2 separate regions of the Homo sapiens genome follow, and region 2 is linked to region 1. The links come from fine-mapping of genetic effects on gene expression. Tissue or cell type: blood mononuclear cells. Region 1 holds a variant in brackets; the other region holds the start of a gene. All regions are shown on one strand. Distances are from middle to middle.

The links. PIP is the estimated chance that this variant, and not a neighbour inherited with it, causes the effect.
Region 2: it holds the start of IGSF10, and the variant in region 1 is fine-mapped to the expression of IGSF10 in blood mononuclear cells (TOPMed, PIP 0.95).

Annotation. Positions count from the first base shown.
Region 1 is chr3:151,540,499-151,548,690 of GRCh38, forward strand. It overlaps a transcript of IGSF10 not described here. Among named protein-coding and RNA genes, the nearest start is that of LINC02066, 7.6 kb to the right of the region's middle. The variant C/T (reference allele first, on the strand shown) is at 3,261.
Region 2 is chr3:151,456,680-151,464,871 of GRCh38, forward strand. IGSF10 (immunoglobulin superfamily member 10) reads right to left here and starts at 4,382. Exons shown (of 8, transcript NM_178822.5): 1 at 4,267-4,382; 2 at 3,582-3,668; 3 at 1,837-2,031; 4 at 347-476. The coding sequence starts at 2,030.

The sequences.
Region 1 (8,192 bases):
AGTGTGTAACTAAACCACAGTGTAGTTATCCATTCTACTTTTGATAGCCTGTGAGAAGTTGACAGTTTAGAGCTATTATAAATAGTAGTGATGTGAACATTCTTGTTCGTACCTCTGGTGCACATATATCTATGTACTTCTGTTGACTCTATGCCTACAGTGGTATTGCTGGGTCAGAGGGTATGTATTTGTTTGGCTTTTGTGGATGTTAGCAGTTTTCCAAAGTGTTTACTAGTTTATACACCCACCAGCAGTGTACAAAAATTCCAGTTGCTTTACATCCTCACAAGCCTAGTCCCCCACGAAAATGCACACGAACCAATCCCTGCAATCTGTGAATATGATACCTTGCATGGCAAAAGGAACTTTCAGAGCCACAGTGGAGATCCACTAGTAATTTTGTTGCTCTCTGAGGATCTCCTCAGTTTTTCACTGTTGAACCCTGAACAACCATCTACATTTTAAGTGTGAAGGTTACAGAAGAAATTATTGGAACAACTGCAGAGGGGAGACATCAGAGGGAGTTCAGTTCCAGATAGTGGAAATCATGCTGAAGTTTGTATAGTGTGTATGGAACAAATGATTCCGTTTAAGGTTAAAAAAACAAACCTTAAAATACCCTCAAAACCTCAGTAGTTTAATTAAGTTCATTACATCTGATGTGATTAGCAGTAAGATTCATAAACTATCAGTTTCTCCTACATCAGTCATGTTTTTGACTGTCCACAGTTATCTAAAACATATTTTACAAACTTCATGGCAGAAAGTCAGATGTGTCTGTTGAAGTAGAATGACTTCAAGACAGTATATCTTTACATTATATGGGAGGCTAACAAAACAGTAAAATTTGTTATGATACAGAGCTGAGTCATGTCAAAAAAATCATATTTTAGAATTTGATGTCAGTGAGATTAGCTAGCACACTAAAGTTCTTTGTTTAATTTGCTAGGCCATAAATTCAGTTTTCTTATAGTCATATAGATGAGATTTAAACACATTACTGAGTAAACAAAGTACTTTTAGAGGTTTGCTCATGGTTGTATTTTAAAGTTGACACTATTCTTTTAGGAGGCTGATATTTCTAATTTTATATTGTCCTTTTTGATAAATTGGCTTCTCTCTCTCTGCATATGTTTTAGTTTTTTCTTTGTAGTATCTCTATTTTTTATTATTTCATCTTACTAATACCTCCTCATGTCTTATGAAATTCATCATCTTTTCCTCCTTCTCTCGAGGACATACAGAAGTACAATACATAAATACATATACATACATATGTGTGGATGAGTGGATAGATAGATGTATGTCTGGGGCCCAAGCTAGACCAATCAGCTGTGGAGAAAATGGGGGTCAAAGCAAGCTAAGCATGGCCACTTTCTCCCTTAAGAAAAGCAACTTTCCTTAGAAAGGATTGTGTATGCGGCAGGTAGCATGACCAATGTTCTTAACACATTCTTTGGCTTCATTTTAATCTCTTTTCCTGAGTTGTTCCTTAAATTACTGTTGCTTTCACACCCAACTCCCTTCTCCTCTCATTCACGCTTAAAAATTTCCCAGGTGATCTTATTTATTCAGTGGCTTTTACAGCACTTGCTTTATCTCCAGCCCAAATGACTTTCAGGTACTCCAGGTTCTGGCTATCACACAGGCACTAAACTCAAAACATTTCAAAATAAATCCATTATTTTATATATCCAGGCTGCAAATGCTTTTCTTCCTGTATATCTTATGTCAGAACCATAAATGCATATAAATACTCATTTTCTTTATATATAATATTGGACATAATATAAGACACATATAGTAATTTTTTACTGTATTTTCTCACTATAACGAAAATCTCCCTTACTTTAACATAAGTAGAATTCATTCATAAGGATATTTTAAAGTAAGACAATACACAGAAGTATATAGGGATAAGCAAGTCTTCCTCTCATTTCTGACCTCTGTATTCTAGTCCTCTTCCTCACAGGCATCGACTCTTCTCAACATCAGCTACATCCTTGCAGGGATACCCTTTGTATAAATATATATGCATGTGTATTTTTCTTAAAATTTATATTCTGCTGTGGATACATTTCTTTCCTTGTTTTTCCACTAACAGTATAACTTGAATACTTACTATAAAAACAAAATAAATGTTTTTAGTAAGAAATGTTTATAGTAAGAAATGTTTATAGTAAGAATTTACATAAGGAAAACTTCTTATAGTTTCTGATTTGGGTTCTTAAAACTAACTATACTGTAATCCTGTTAGATTACGTCCTTTCAAGGAGGGAATGCTTAAAGTTACTGTTGATGATTGTAATTTGTTTTATATACTTTTGTCTTGTTAAAATCACATGTTTTTATTAAAGGTATTTTTGTACTTTCCTCACCTGCTGTCTAGAGGCCACACAATTTTAGCTTTTTTTCTGACATTGCCACTGTATTTCAAAACAATGTGCTCATCTTTAAAAATGTGCTTTATCTTCACCAATTCTAGACATCGTCTATTGATATTTTTGTTCAAAAATGATTCAGCTCATTTATAAAATCTCTCCTACTAATTCCCCTAGTCAATTTTTCAATATAATTATATCAGAATTTTGGTTTAATTAAGGCTAAATTTTACATTATGAATATTTGTAAGAATTCTCTCCGTAGTCAAGGAGACTAAGTCCATGATTATCATTTGGGTTTTCCTGCAGTAAATAAGTATTAGGTTCAGGGGTCTGGGTCCAGCCTATGCTGCCGTCCAAGGGGAGGAGTGGGTCGATGGGCAGAAAGATCACTCAGGGGGCCATAGGCAGGTGAAATGCAGTTTTATTCAGCAGCTTTTTCATCAGCAGCTTACCCACATTAGCTCTCTTACACTGTCCACCTTTATCTTGGATGTCTGCTCCAGCTCTGTGGCTTCTACTACCCCCACACCTGCAGCTGCACAGCTGGCTCTCCCTTGCCTTCAGGGTCAGCAGCTTAACTCTTTCTCTCTCTGGGCAAGAGCACGAGCAGTGTTGTGCCATGCCGTGCCATGCCAAGCTGTGTCCTGCCTCCCCTCTGTTCACCTGCAAGATGAACAGCTTTGCTTGCTCTCTCTCTTTCTCTGGGTACCAATGCCTGAACAAAAGCCATGACCAGTCGAGCTGAGCCAAGCCCCTGTGCACAGTGTCAGCAGGGCAATTACACCTTTTACAGACAATAGTGGCTCAGAGCCAAGTATGAACTTACACAAATAGGTTATATAACAAGTGGAGGTGTGCGTCTGCCTGCCAAACTTG[C/T]TGAGTCATGCAGGCCTGGATATCTGCCTTGGCCTATTCCTTGATCAAAGCATATCCATGTACCTTACAATAAGTATCTGTTTAGTTTTCTATGTAGCTATTGATAATTTCCCCCAACTCCCTACCCCTAAGTGCTCAAACAGATCTGTCAAATGTCTTTTCTTTTATTGAGACGGAGTTTTACTCTGTCACCCAGGCTGGAGTGCAGTGGCACAATCTTGGCTCACTGCAACCTCTGCCTCCCAGGTTCAAGCAATTCTCCTGCCTCAGCCTCCCAAGTAGCTGGGACTACAGGCACATGCCACCACGCCTGGCTAATTTTGTATTTTTAGTAGAGAAGGGGTTTCCCCATATTGCCCAGGCTGGTCTTGAACTCCTGACCTCAAGTGATCCACCTGCCTCAGCCTCCCAAAGTGCTGGGATTACAGGCATGAGCCACCACACCTGGCCTGTCAAATGTCTTTTAATATTTCCAGTGTACTCAAACACATCAGGACTGGGTTTGCCTAGGAGAACATTCTGCAGGGGCCCTCTGACTGGCTCTAATTGCTCCTGGTGGCTCTCCAGGCTGCTGCAACACAGCAGTCTTTCTGGGGTTTTCTCTGCTCTCACCTCCATAGGATTTCCTGTTTTCTCTACCTCACATCTTTCTTTTGGTATAGCAACCTCTAAAGCTTTTCAAGAAAGAATGCATGGAATGTTTGAAAATATATATCCAGCTTCCATGTTTGAATGACAGTTTGATGGCTTAAAAATTCTAAATTGGAGAGCATTTTCACTGAGAATTTTAAAGACACTGCTCTATATTTCATTCCCTACCCACCTACCCACCCTGTTTTAGTTTTGCTGCTGAAAGTCTAATGCTATTTGATTTCCAAATCCTCTGTTCAATGACCTGTTTTCTCTTTCTAAAAGTATTTAAGATTTTCTCTCTTTTTTTTTTTTTTCAATGCCCTGGGGTTTGAAATGCATTGTGATGTCCTTTGCTGTGTTTTATTTATTGTATTATGCATGCGATAGGCCCTTCAATCTGAAGATTTTTGTGTTTTGGTTTTGGAAATTGTCTTATTTTACTTCTATGATGATTCTTCTCTCCTTTGTTTTCTCTGTTTTCTACTCTGGAACTGTTATTAGTTTAGCTATTGGGTCTTCTATACTGATTCTCTAACTTTCTTAATTTTTAAATTTTCCATCTGTCTCTTGGTTTCTGAGACATTTTCACAACTTTATCTTTCATATCTGTTGAATTTTCTATTTTAGTTATTCTACATTTAAGTGTTTTAAAATTCTTACTTGGATCCTTCTTAATAGCCTTTTGTTATTGTTTCACAACTGTAATATATCCTTTAATCTTTTTGAGCATATTAGTTACATAATTTTGAAAGTTTTTTTATGCTTCTTGCATATTCTCTTTTTTTCTGGGCTTGATTTTCTATTATTGTGGGCCTGTTTTCACATTAGAGACTTTTCTCAAACACCTGGCAATGCTTGGCTCCCCACTTGTAGTTAAAAGGAGGCCCTGAGAAGCAAATGGAATCACTGAGTGCAGTTTGGCAGAATTCACTGTAGGGTAATAAGGCAGCAAGGTGCTCTTCTCATGTAGGAGATACTAAGAGATTTTTCTCTTGAGCTGCTCAGTTTCACAGTGAAGAATTCTATAATCCTCTGCCTTGCAGCTTTGGAGGATGAAGCAAGGCCTTTGCTCTGAGTGCTAAATAATAGGCTTTCTATCACTTCCATTGTTTTTGGTCTTATGGTTTAGCCCAATTTCTGTGGTACTTTTGACCATCAAGTCCTGAAGTTCTCTAAGTTTCCATAGGGAAAATTGGCTCAATTCAAGCTGCAATCCCTCTGCAGGTGTCTGCACTTTAGCATTCCTGCACTTTGCTTTGTCAAGAACCGGCCTTCCATCTGTTTGTTATTTATTTATATTTTCCAATTATTTATTGGCATTCCTCATCTGCTGTCATCTCCTCACCTTTCTCAGCTTTGTCCTTGAATTTGTACTTTAAAAATCATTTGTCAATTTGATAACATTTTTGGATGGAAAGAAAATAAACGTGGTGAATATTTGTTAATTGAAATTGTCATGAATCAGGAAGAAGCAAAAGGGTGCTGAAGGGTAACTGGTTAGGAATCTGTAGTGCAGGGGTTAACAAATTACTGCTCCCTATCCAAATGTTGCTCGCAGCAGATGAGCTTAGCCTGGTTTTTACATTTTTAAAGGGTTGTAAAACAAAACAAATCAAAACAAAACATTAGATTAGAGATCATATGTGGCCACAAAAAAAAAAAAAAGCCTAGCATAATTGTTACCTAGCTCTGTACAGAAAGATATTGCTGAACCCAGCTTTAGTGCAGTGGTTCTCAACCTGGGAGCATCAAAAACAGATCTATGACCAGGTCTCACTCTGGACCATTAAGCAAAAATCTCTGTTGGCAAGGCTCAGGGGGTGATATTAGCATGCAGCGAGACTATTATGAAAACCCTCTCCTACCAAAATACAGCATTATCTACACCACCAAGATACCACCACCATCCCACCAACAAGAGCAACTGATAAATTTCTATGCTTGTTATTTACTATTTATGTTTATTTACTTTTTGAGACAGGGTTTTGCTCTGTTGCCTTGGCTTCAGTGCAGTGGTGTAATTATGGCTCACCATAGCCTTGACCCTCAGGGCTCAAGCGATCCTCCCACCTCAGCCTCCTGGGTAGCTGGGAGTACAGGTGTCCACAACCATGCCTGGCTAATTTTTTTTTTTTTTTAATATTTAGTCGAGATAAAGCCTCAGTATGTCGCCCAGCCTGGTCTCAAACTCCTGAGCTCAAATCCCTCCTTGGCTTCCCAAAGTAAGCCATCATGCCTGGCGTATGTTTATTTTTGGCAACATTATATACACATAAATTGCTTGTACAAGCCTGATGATTAAAGTCAAAGTCCTCTGTGTCCCTCTTCCCCATTCTATAAGTATAGCCTCTTTACATTTTTTAAATTAATTCTTTTCTCCATATTTCTTTTTTTTGAGACGAAGTTTTTGCTCTTGTTGCCCAGGCTGAAGCGCAATGGTGCAATCTCGGCTCATTGCAACCTCCGCCTCCCGGGTTCAAGCAATTATCCTGCCTCAGCCTCCTGAGTAGCTGGTATTACAGGCAACTGCCACCACGCCCGGCTAATTTTTATATAATTAGTAGAGATGGGGTTTCACCATGTGGACCAGGCTGGTCTTGAACTTCTGACCTCCGGCGATCCACCCCCCCCTTGGCCTCCCAAAGTGCTGGGATTACAGGCGTGAACCACCGTGCCCGGCCTCTTTTCTCCATATTTCTAAATAATATGTTTATATTGCTTCTTCAGGATTTTTCAGTTTTAGACATTTTCTATTAACTTTCTACCATGAAAAATAAGGATTTAGTTCCCTTTCACAACCACACCGTCCCACACACATGCAAGCTTCCAAGATCCACTCCATCCTTTTTAATAGTTTTCATTAGAACAATATTCATTTTGTTAAATATGTTCATCAGTATGTAAATGCTTTTCACAGCTGAGCAATGCCATAGCCAGTGATTATGTTCTTGCACAATTATGTTCTTCCTGAAGTTAGTAATTAATCTTACTTTTGACTCCTCTCCTTAGTTTTCCATATATTATATAAATATATATATACACACACACACACACACACACACACACACGTTATTCAAAACTAAACTGTTGCCAATTGTCTAGGTCTTCTCTCAGTATAGACATCATGTATTCTATTAATATCATGTTTGTGAAACAGCTTCTCCTAGAGCCTGGACTGGAGGCTTACTGTACCTGGTGCATATTTGTCATTGGACTCTGGTTTTCCTCTTTCAGAGATGTTCTTTGCCTCTGGGTTGTATGGAGTACTCTGGTTTCTAGAGCCCAGATATTCTTCTTTCTTGGTTTAAGTCTTCATCTTGGAGCAAATCCATCAGTAACTTTATGAGAAAGAGTGCATGGGAGACAAATGCTCCTGATATTGCATGTCTGAAAATGTAAAGAATCCGCCGGCATGTTATTTACAGTTAGCTTGCAAATGGAATTCTAGGTTTAAATGTATTTTCCTTCATATTTTAATGGCATCAATCCCTCACTATACAACTTCCAGTTTTACTGTTTGAGCAACCTGAAGTCATTCTAGTTTTATATGTTTGTGGTGTGGAAGATTGTATTTCCAAAAATGGTTGCAAAATATCTTTGTCTCACATGCTTTTCTACAATGTGACCTTTCTACTCTCCCATTGAGATGTGTGTACCTTCCCTTTGAATCTGCATGGCCAGTAATTTGCTTATATCCAACACATTATAGTGGAAGTGATGTTGGGGTAATTTCGAGGCTAGTTTAAAAGAAGCAGTATGCCTTTTGCCTTGTTCATGGGGACACTTGTTTGCGGAACCCTAAGTGGCAATATAAGAAGTCTGACTACCCTAAACATTATGCTCTAAGGAAACCCATGGCAAATAGAGAGGCCTCATGGGGTTCCTCTGTCAACAGCCCCAGCTAAGGTTCAAGCTGACAGCCAGCATCAAATGCTAAATATATGAGTGAATGAGACTTCAGATGATTTAAGCCATCTGTCCGTCATCTCTAGTTGTCTTCCCAGCTGAAGTCACAGACATTGTGGAGAAGAGATAAGCCATTCCTACTGCGCTCTGCCTAAATTACTGACCCACAAAACCCAAGAGCATAATAAAATTGTTGTTTTAACCCACTAAGTGTTGGGAGAATTTGTTGCATGACACTAATGACTGGAACAGTATGTGACTTTTAAAAACATTTTTGAAAGCTCTTAGGATTTCATTTTTGTTTTTCAGTGTCCTGAAAGTTTATGATGGCTATTTCACTCATTGTAAGTCAACCCTTTCAATGTGAAAATATTCATATCTTTCAGTTCTTAG
Region 2 (8,192 bases), 84 kb before region 1:
TTATCTGTCTAAGATAGTCATTACTTTTAGGAACCACATTCAATTCCCAGATAAACATGACTAGAAGTGTCCTTTTAGGATTAAATTTTGAAGGTTTATCGTCTCTGGGTATTGATTTTTTTTCTATTAGCTTGAGGTAGTAGAAAACTTGCCTCAGAGTTCTTATTATTCTAATTTATACACACAGTTCCACAGTTAAAAATCAGTTAACATTCTCCATTGACGTCTGCTTCTAATTTACAGAATGTTGATTTTCGTATTGTGTAGAGATAGGCAGCCTTTGAAGGTCTATCTCACAGGTCCCACCTTACCTCTTTAACCTGCCCCCTCTCTCCATCAGTCTCACCTGCAAGGCCTGCAAATCTGAGAAGGTCTTGTCAGGGATTGTGTGAATGCCATTGCTGTGAAGCATGAGTAACTCCAGTTTGGTCAGGCCAGAAAAATCTGTTTCCATCAATCTAACCAAGCTGTTGTATCTGAAATAAAAAATGACATTCTAGGCATAAGCTAAGTCTGTCAACTAAAGTTCAAATGTCATAACCAAAATAAACACAAGAAAACTCAATACCTCTCTTTATAACTGTACTCTATTGAGACAATCAAATGCTTCAAAAACTGAAATTCACCAGATGCCACAGAAGGTCGGCTCTCTACCCAGTTCTTGCCATTTCAGTTACAATCACCCCCCTCATATTCTGGGAACTTGTCACATTTCTTATCATTTTCAAACTTTTATATATATGCTGTTCCCTCAGGTTGGAATGCCCTTGACCTCACCTTTTTCTATTTGTGAACACTTAATATCTAGCCCATTCTTTCATGACACTATCTCCTCACCACTCCCCCAGGTGGAATTCGTCAGCAGTGGTTAAGAAGCCTGGGCTCTGGAGGCCAGGCTTGGGCGTCTCGTTTGGGTATGATTACGAGCTCAGGCTCAACAGAGTAGTGGTACAACCCTGGGTAAAATCAGCAGGCTTTCTGTGCCTCAGTTTCCTCATCTATAAAATGTAAATAATAGAACTCACTCCAAAGGGGTTATGAGGATTAAATGGATGCAGTGCTTAACCCAATGCCAGCACCTACTGAGCACAACCTTAATGTTAGCTCTTAATATTAGTGACTGTCTCTAAAACACTTTGTATGCTCTATTAGTTTTTATTAATTGTACTGACCGTACATTTGTCTGGTCTTTTTAACGATCAATACACATCCTAGAAGTGAATAGTATATCTTACCATTGTATCCCCAGTGCATAGTACATGCTCACTAATGTCAAATAAACGATGCTAAGTCCAACATGTGTATTCAGACACACACAGACTTTTTTTTCATGAACGTTTAAAATACAGTCATATTTTTAAAAATTTAATTAGGCATCCATTTTAAATAAGTTTGTATGGAAAGAAACCAAAGGGCCTATAAAAAGGATACATATATATATATATGTATGTATGTGTGTGTGTGTGTGTATTATATAGGCAGACACTTCCAGTTACCCTGTCATCTCTTATGATGAATGATCATAACCCCAATAGTTAACAGAAACTATATCATTTTCCAGCAAAAATGTAGCCAGAAAGAAGCTTTTTACCGTCATGAGTCTCCCAACCTACCAAGAGGGACTTCAAATTCTAGAAGAACTTTCTCCTAATAAAAGTTTACCAGGAAAAGTTTTCTTATTGCCCCCAACAAACAAAATTCTCATGAGCTCATTTCAGAAAAGAAATATTGTTAAAACAATTGAGATTCATCTCCCAAAGTCATAGATGTTTGAGGGACAAGTCACTGCTGCGACTGATCCCTCTTTGAGAAGAGGAAACATGAGGTCTCACACACCCTAAATTGATGCGTTCCACATTGGGCGGGATGCTGTCTGGGATGGAAGTCAGGTACCGAAATGTGCAGTGTACCTCCGTAGGCATATAACAGGCACAGCGGCGAGGACAGGCCTTGCCCCCAGGGGTGGCGACCAGGCAGATCACAGCAAAGGAGACCAGCAAGCAGGTGATTCCTCTGCCTTTTACCTTCATCCTGAAAAAACATCATACCTCAGAGTTATAAAGAGTGGTGGAGCAAAGTCCCAGGACCACCACACACTCACTCTGGGAATCTGGGAGACCTTCTTTAAGGGTCGTAAGTGGTCAATTCCATTCCTACCCTTTGTGGTCATATGCACTCTTTACAAAACTATAGTGTGTGCTGCTGGCCTCACACTGCGCTTTATGATCAAGTGGGATATTTACTGTTGTGAAAATTTCTTCACAGCTTCTCACTTCTTTATGAAAACCAGCAATCCCTATTACTCAGGCATTCATTAAAAGGGAAACTGGAAACCATAAGAAAGATTGTGACAACTAAAATATATAGAATTTAGTTTCCTTTATATACATTAATTCTTTTAGAGTAACTTTCAAGAAACTGATTATAACAGTAATATCTGTGCATAATAAAACATTTGGAAACTGTAATTAAGCAGTAAAAAGGAAAAAAATTACTCAATCTCACCACTTATATAATCCTTAAACATGTTGTTGTATTCCTTTCCAGCCTTTTTCATCTATTGTGTGTATATGTATAGGTGTACATACATTTACGTGTATATGTGTACATGTGATCAAACTCAATTTTGTAACACATTTTATCATTTCATATATAATGTTTTTTCATTTTATTAAACCTTCTTCAGAAACATTTTTTAAAGGTTGTAATAATCCACTGGAAGGGAGAATAAATCTCTTTCTAACCGGTTTTCAAGTCCCTGCCAAAAAAAAAGACACATTGAACACTTCACTGCCAAGTAATGACCATAAGCAACAGCGACTGACCAGCTGAGAGGGCTTGAGCCATGCTGACCCTGTGCAGGCATGATGCTGTCTGCTTTTGCTCAGCTTCGGACATCTCTCTGCCTTTTTCCTTGGTCCCTCCTCCAGCTCATGGCTGCCACAGGAGGTGGGGAGCATAACCAGGGAAGAAATATGCTCAGCTTGTCAGAAAAAAAAAAATGGTATCTGTTACCCATATGTGGGGCAAGCCCAGGAATTCAAACCTAATTCTCTCCTGAAATGCAGGATTGAAATAAACTCTTTATTGTGCTTTTCCAAGCAAAATGACCTTCATAATTTGTAATAAATCCCACCGTTCTGTGGAACAGCATGATGTTGGATTCCACCAGCAACCACCCTTTAGCTACAAACTACACTGAGAAATAACACTGGGGCTGAACTGCTTGGATTTTCATACAGATAAAAAGATGATGGATGTATTATTATAATTTAGTCCAAATTAAAATTTAAGATAGGATTAATCATATGACCACTTTTGCCATCGTAACCACCTGGTTACAATAATTTTAAATAAGCTTTGTATGATTGGAGACAGCATTTCCACCTTATCATTAGATAAACAAAGGAAGGAACAGCAGGATGAAGGTAATTCTCTCGTTCAGCTTAAATAAAAGTTCTGGGTATGCCCACGTTCAAATTATTTAAAAGAGGATCAATAGCATAAGACAACACATGAATAAGGGATTCTCACAAACGTAAGGCTGAAAATGTACATAATGAAATAGGAATTGGCAATACCTGAGCTCTTCTTTCAGGTCCTGAGTCCTCTTGTGACATAGGCAGAGACAGAAAATCTTCCCAGGAAATGGAAAATTGTGTCCAAACCTGAGGGAGGAAAAGTTCTCTGCTCCAAAGTGAGCAAAAAGCCTTATTCTTTTTGGCTTACAGCCAGGAGTAATGCTCTTCAGGGAGACCTGGAGCCGCTTCCACAGCTTCAAAGTTCTATAACTCATAACCACATTAACCCAGAAGCGTTCTTTTATTATGATGCTTGCTGTTGCAGAAACAAAAGGCTAAGTGGAGGTTTTTAAATTTCCTTTCTCCTCCCTCAGTAGTGTACTTAATACTCCTTAAAGTTATCACTTGAATATTAACTACTACTAATCACTCCATTTTGCTCCAAAGTCCCAAGAGCTTCTCCTCAAATTGTCTTTTTTGGACAAATCTGTCACAGATGTCTCCATCTATTGATTGTCTTTCCTCAGTGTGTGTTTTTTTTTTTTGCCTGGCACCAGTCACCGAAGAATTGTCGTGTGCTTTCATGCCCCCACCTTCTCCGGGTGCGTCTTCCCTCCCCCACCCTCAGCCCTCCCCGCCCCAGCGCCCGCTTCTGCAGCCACGGTACTCGCTCCATTCCCACGCCAAGCCCCAGCCGGCGTGGGGTTCCAGCCCTTTCCGGGGAAGGATTGGCCGAGGCGCTCACCTGTTTGCCCTGGTGACCAATGGGCTCGAGCTGCCCGGGCTAGGTCCCGGGCTCGGTCCCGGGCTCAGCTGCTGGGGTCGTGCGGAGCTGGTCCGGAGCTCTGGGAGGGAAGGAAGGAAGGCGGAGCGAGGGCGGGGGATGAGCCCGACTTCTGTGTCTGGGGACGCGGCCGGGGCTCAGCAGCACAAGGATGAGAAACGACCACCGGGCCCCTCTTTATGTTTACGAGCGTGTGGGAAGCTAATTCGCCGTGGCTTCACTCTTTAAATTCCCAGGGCTTTCTCCTAGCAAGTTGGCAGGTCCTGGCTGGGTGGCAGAGCAGTTTCAGTGGCCGCCCGTTCATTTCCTCCTTGACCTCTTCCACCTGTTGACAGGTGGGCCTTTTGGTTTAAGGGTTTACGTAAATCGCCGCAGGCTGTCCTTGGTCCTGTGGCTCCCAAAGTTCTATTTGAAGGCTAAGTTAGCGTTAATGACCTGTGATACCTGCAGTGTCAATGTTTTATTTAAACCCCTCTTTTAAAAATAAGTAAATTATATTGCGTATATTTAAGGTATACAACATGTTATGGGCTATATACAGATAGTAAAATGGTTACTATAGTGAAACAACATATCCATCATCTCACATAGTTACCCCATTTTTGTTTTTGTGACACGAGCAGCTAAAATCTACTCTTTTAGCAAGAATCCCAAATACCATACAATTTTATTAACTATAGTCCTCTTGCACATTAGATCTATATAAATGTATGCTACTGTGTATTCTCTGATCTACATTTTTCCATTTCCTTTCTCCAACCCCTATAACCACTATTTAATTCTCTATCTCTGTATAATCGACCTTTTAGAAAAAGATTTCACATATATAAGTGAGATCATACACTATTTTTCTTTTGGTTTCTGGCTTATTTCACTTGGCATAATGTCCTCCAGGTTCATCCATGTGTGACAAATGGCAATATTTCCCTTTTGTTTTTTAACTGCCAAACAATATTACATCGTATATAGATGTCTCAGAGGAATTCTTTTAAATCATTATCACAGAACCGGATTTAAATACTACTATTTCTGCTTGGATTACATTCTCCTTTCTCATCTCCAACCCTACCATCTGGAGGCAGAGATGCCTCCAGAATCACCTCTACCAACTTGCCCACATGTAATATCTCCTGCAATTCTTGGTGGGGCTCCCAATACTCATAAACACTGAGTTAACATAACTAAAATGACCTTGTTTCCTTCCACGTAGTTACATAGCACTTAAGCTTTTGATGACAATTTGCAATGAATGTTTTAGGGCAGTGGATCTCAAGATAGGGTCACGGGTCCAGCATCAGCATTACTTTGGACTTCGTTAAGATCAAAAATTTGCGGGATCCATCCCAGACCCACTGATTCAGAAACTGTACGAAGGAGGCTTAGGAGTCCATGTGTTAACAAGCCTTCCATATGATTCTGATGCAGCTACAATGTGAGAATTGCTGGTTTAGTGAAATAACTTCTGAAAAATGTTTTACAAATACCAACTCATTTCAGCCTCACCATAGCACCAAAAAGCCTAAAAGGAAAGTATTTATGTTATTCCCATTTTACAAGTAAGGTACATGAAGGAAAGTGACAGAACTCCAGGCCATGTGGCTTGTGAGTAGAAAAGCCGTTAATTCAAACTCAGGCAGTCTTGCCCTATGGTCTGAACGTTTAACCATAAAGTTGTGGCTGCCTCACTTAGCTAAACATGGATAATGTGCCATATCCCATGCCGAGCATTCATGTGATTTATGGTTAGTAATAAGTCAGTTACCAAAGTAGAATTATAGAATCAGAGACTCAGAGTTAGAAGTAACCCTAGAAGCATGTATATGAACATGGTCTTTAGCTCTGCAGAGCTGACAAGATTCTTTTAAATTAAAAATTCACGTGATGTCCAAACTTGGATGCTTGCTTTGGAAATGTGGCATATTTGTCGGGTTTTGGCAGCCACAGTTTATCTTTCTCCCAAAGCTCCTTGGTGACCAACCTCATGGCTTCGTATTCTTTAGTCAATTTCTAACCCAGGTCTGGACTTCCAGACCTCAACTAGGATGAACCACAGAAAGATGACAGCAACATGTTAAACTTATTTTCCTAGGCTTGTTACCTGGGGTCATTTTCTTGCTATCAATTTCAAAGTGAACTCCTGATAGGAATGTTTGCTTCTCTTAAGAATTTTTATGAGATAAATCTCTACAATTGCTTTATGTCAGAGCTCTTCTCTGACGTATTTTCTACTTTTCATGTCATCTTCCAGAATTATTAGAAACCTGAGTCATATTGGCACCAATTCTAGTTCCATTTGCTCCACTTAATAACAATTCTAATATTTGTAATTACTTTTATAGTTAGAGTATATATGTGTCAAAGCCTTTATATGTATTGCTTAATTCTCAGAAATATTCTGATGAGTAAGTGCTAAAATTATACCAGTTTTTCAGATGAGATTGCTGAGGATAAAGAATGCTAAATGATTCAGAGCCAAAATACAATACTGAATTAATTTTAAAATTGTAAAACCAATGCTTTTAAGCCTTACATTTTCTGGTTTTTTTTTTTTTTTTTTTTTTTTTTTTTTTTTTTTTTCTGAGACGGAGTTTTGCTCTTGTTGCCCAGGCTGGAGTGCAATGGCGCAATCTCGGCTCACCACAACCTCCACTTTCTGGGTTCAAGCAATTCTCCTGCCTCAGCCTCCTGAGTAGCTGGGATTACAGGCACATGCCACCATGGCTGGGCGCAGTGGCTCACACCTGTAATCCCAGCATTTTGGGAGGCCAAGGCGGGAGGATCACCTGAGGTCAGGAATTTGAGACCAGCCTGGTCAACATGGTGAAACCCCGTCTCTACAAAAATACAAAAAAAGCCTTATATTTTCTATCTTCTTCCTGCTTCTATTTATAAAATTTGGAGAGTCCACAGCATATCAAAGAAAAGTTTCACCACTCTTTTTTCTAACCATGCTTAATAATGCAATATGTTTCTATAGATTCATATGGTTTACAAATCACTTTCACCTTTGAACATGGCCTCATTTAATAAGAAATATATGAAATTCAATGATAATGACTTTATTTTGTAATTGTAACTTTATTTTGCAGAAGTTAATTGAGTGTATAATTTGCCAAGATCTCAGAGCTGAGCATAGCGACTCTGAGTTAATTGTCAATCTGAACTCCTAAACCTGTGTTTCCTGGACTACGGTAATTTACCTACGCTTTAAGGATGGTTTGACATTTTAATTACCTCTCACTATAGTTTTACCTAATGATTTTCTTTAAATCCTCCCCCTCTTTTTGTTACTCTTTTCTTAAACAGTATTGTTGGTAAATTCTCAGGCTTTGTATTTTTTCTAGTAAACACGACAATAAATATACATCTTCTTCACCTTTTATATCACCCCTGAGAATTACATTTCCCCTCATCTCTAGGTCTTTGACATTATTTGCTGTCTTTTCTAGTAATTACTACTTCTTACTCCTCATCCTTAATTTATCATCCATACCATCCTTTACATCACCCTCCTAATCAGAGTATTTATTTAACACCAATCAACCAAGCGCAAGCAGTTACAAGTCATAGATCACCTGACAATCAGAACAAGCTATGAATTTTAAAACTGACTTATATATGTGTCAACAGATAACCAAATGCCAAAATTGTTACATATCTTTTAATCAGGCACAATCATTACCACCTCCCAGCTCCACAATTTTCATATTATTCAATTAACCAAACAGTCAAGACCTCCACTGAGTGATTCCAATAGCAGTGAAGTAGACTGACATCTTAGCCCTTCCTTTTTTGAAGTTACAGACTAGCACGGTAAGTGATAAGTGCCATGAAGAGACATAATGCAGGAAAAGGAGGTAGAAAGAAAATCAGTATCATCTTTCTTC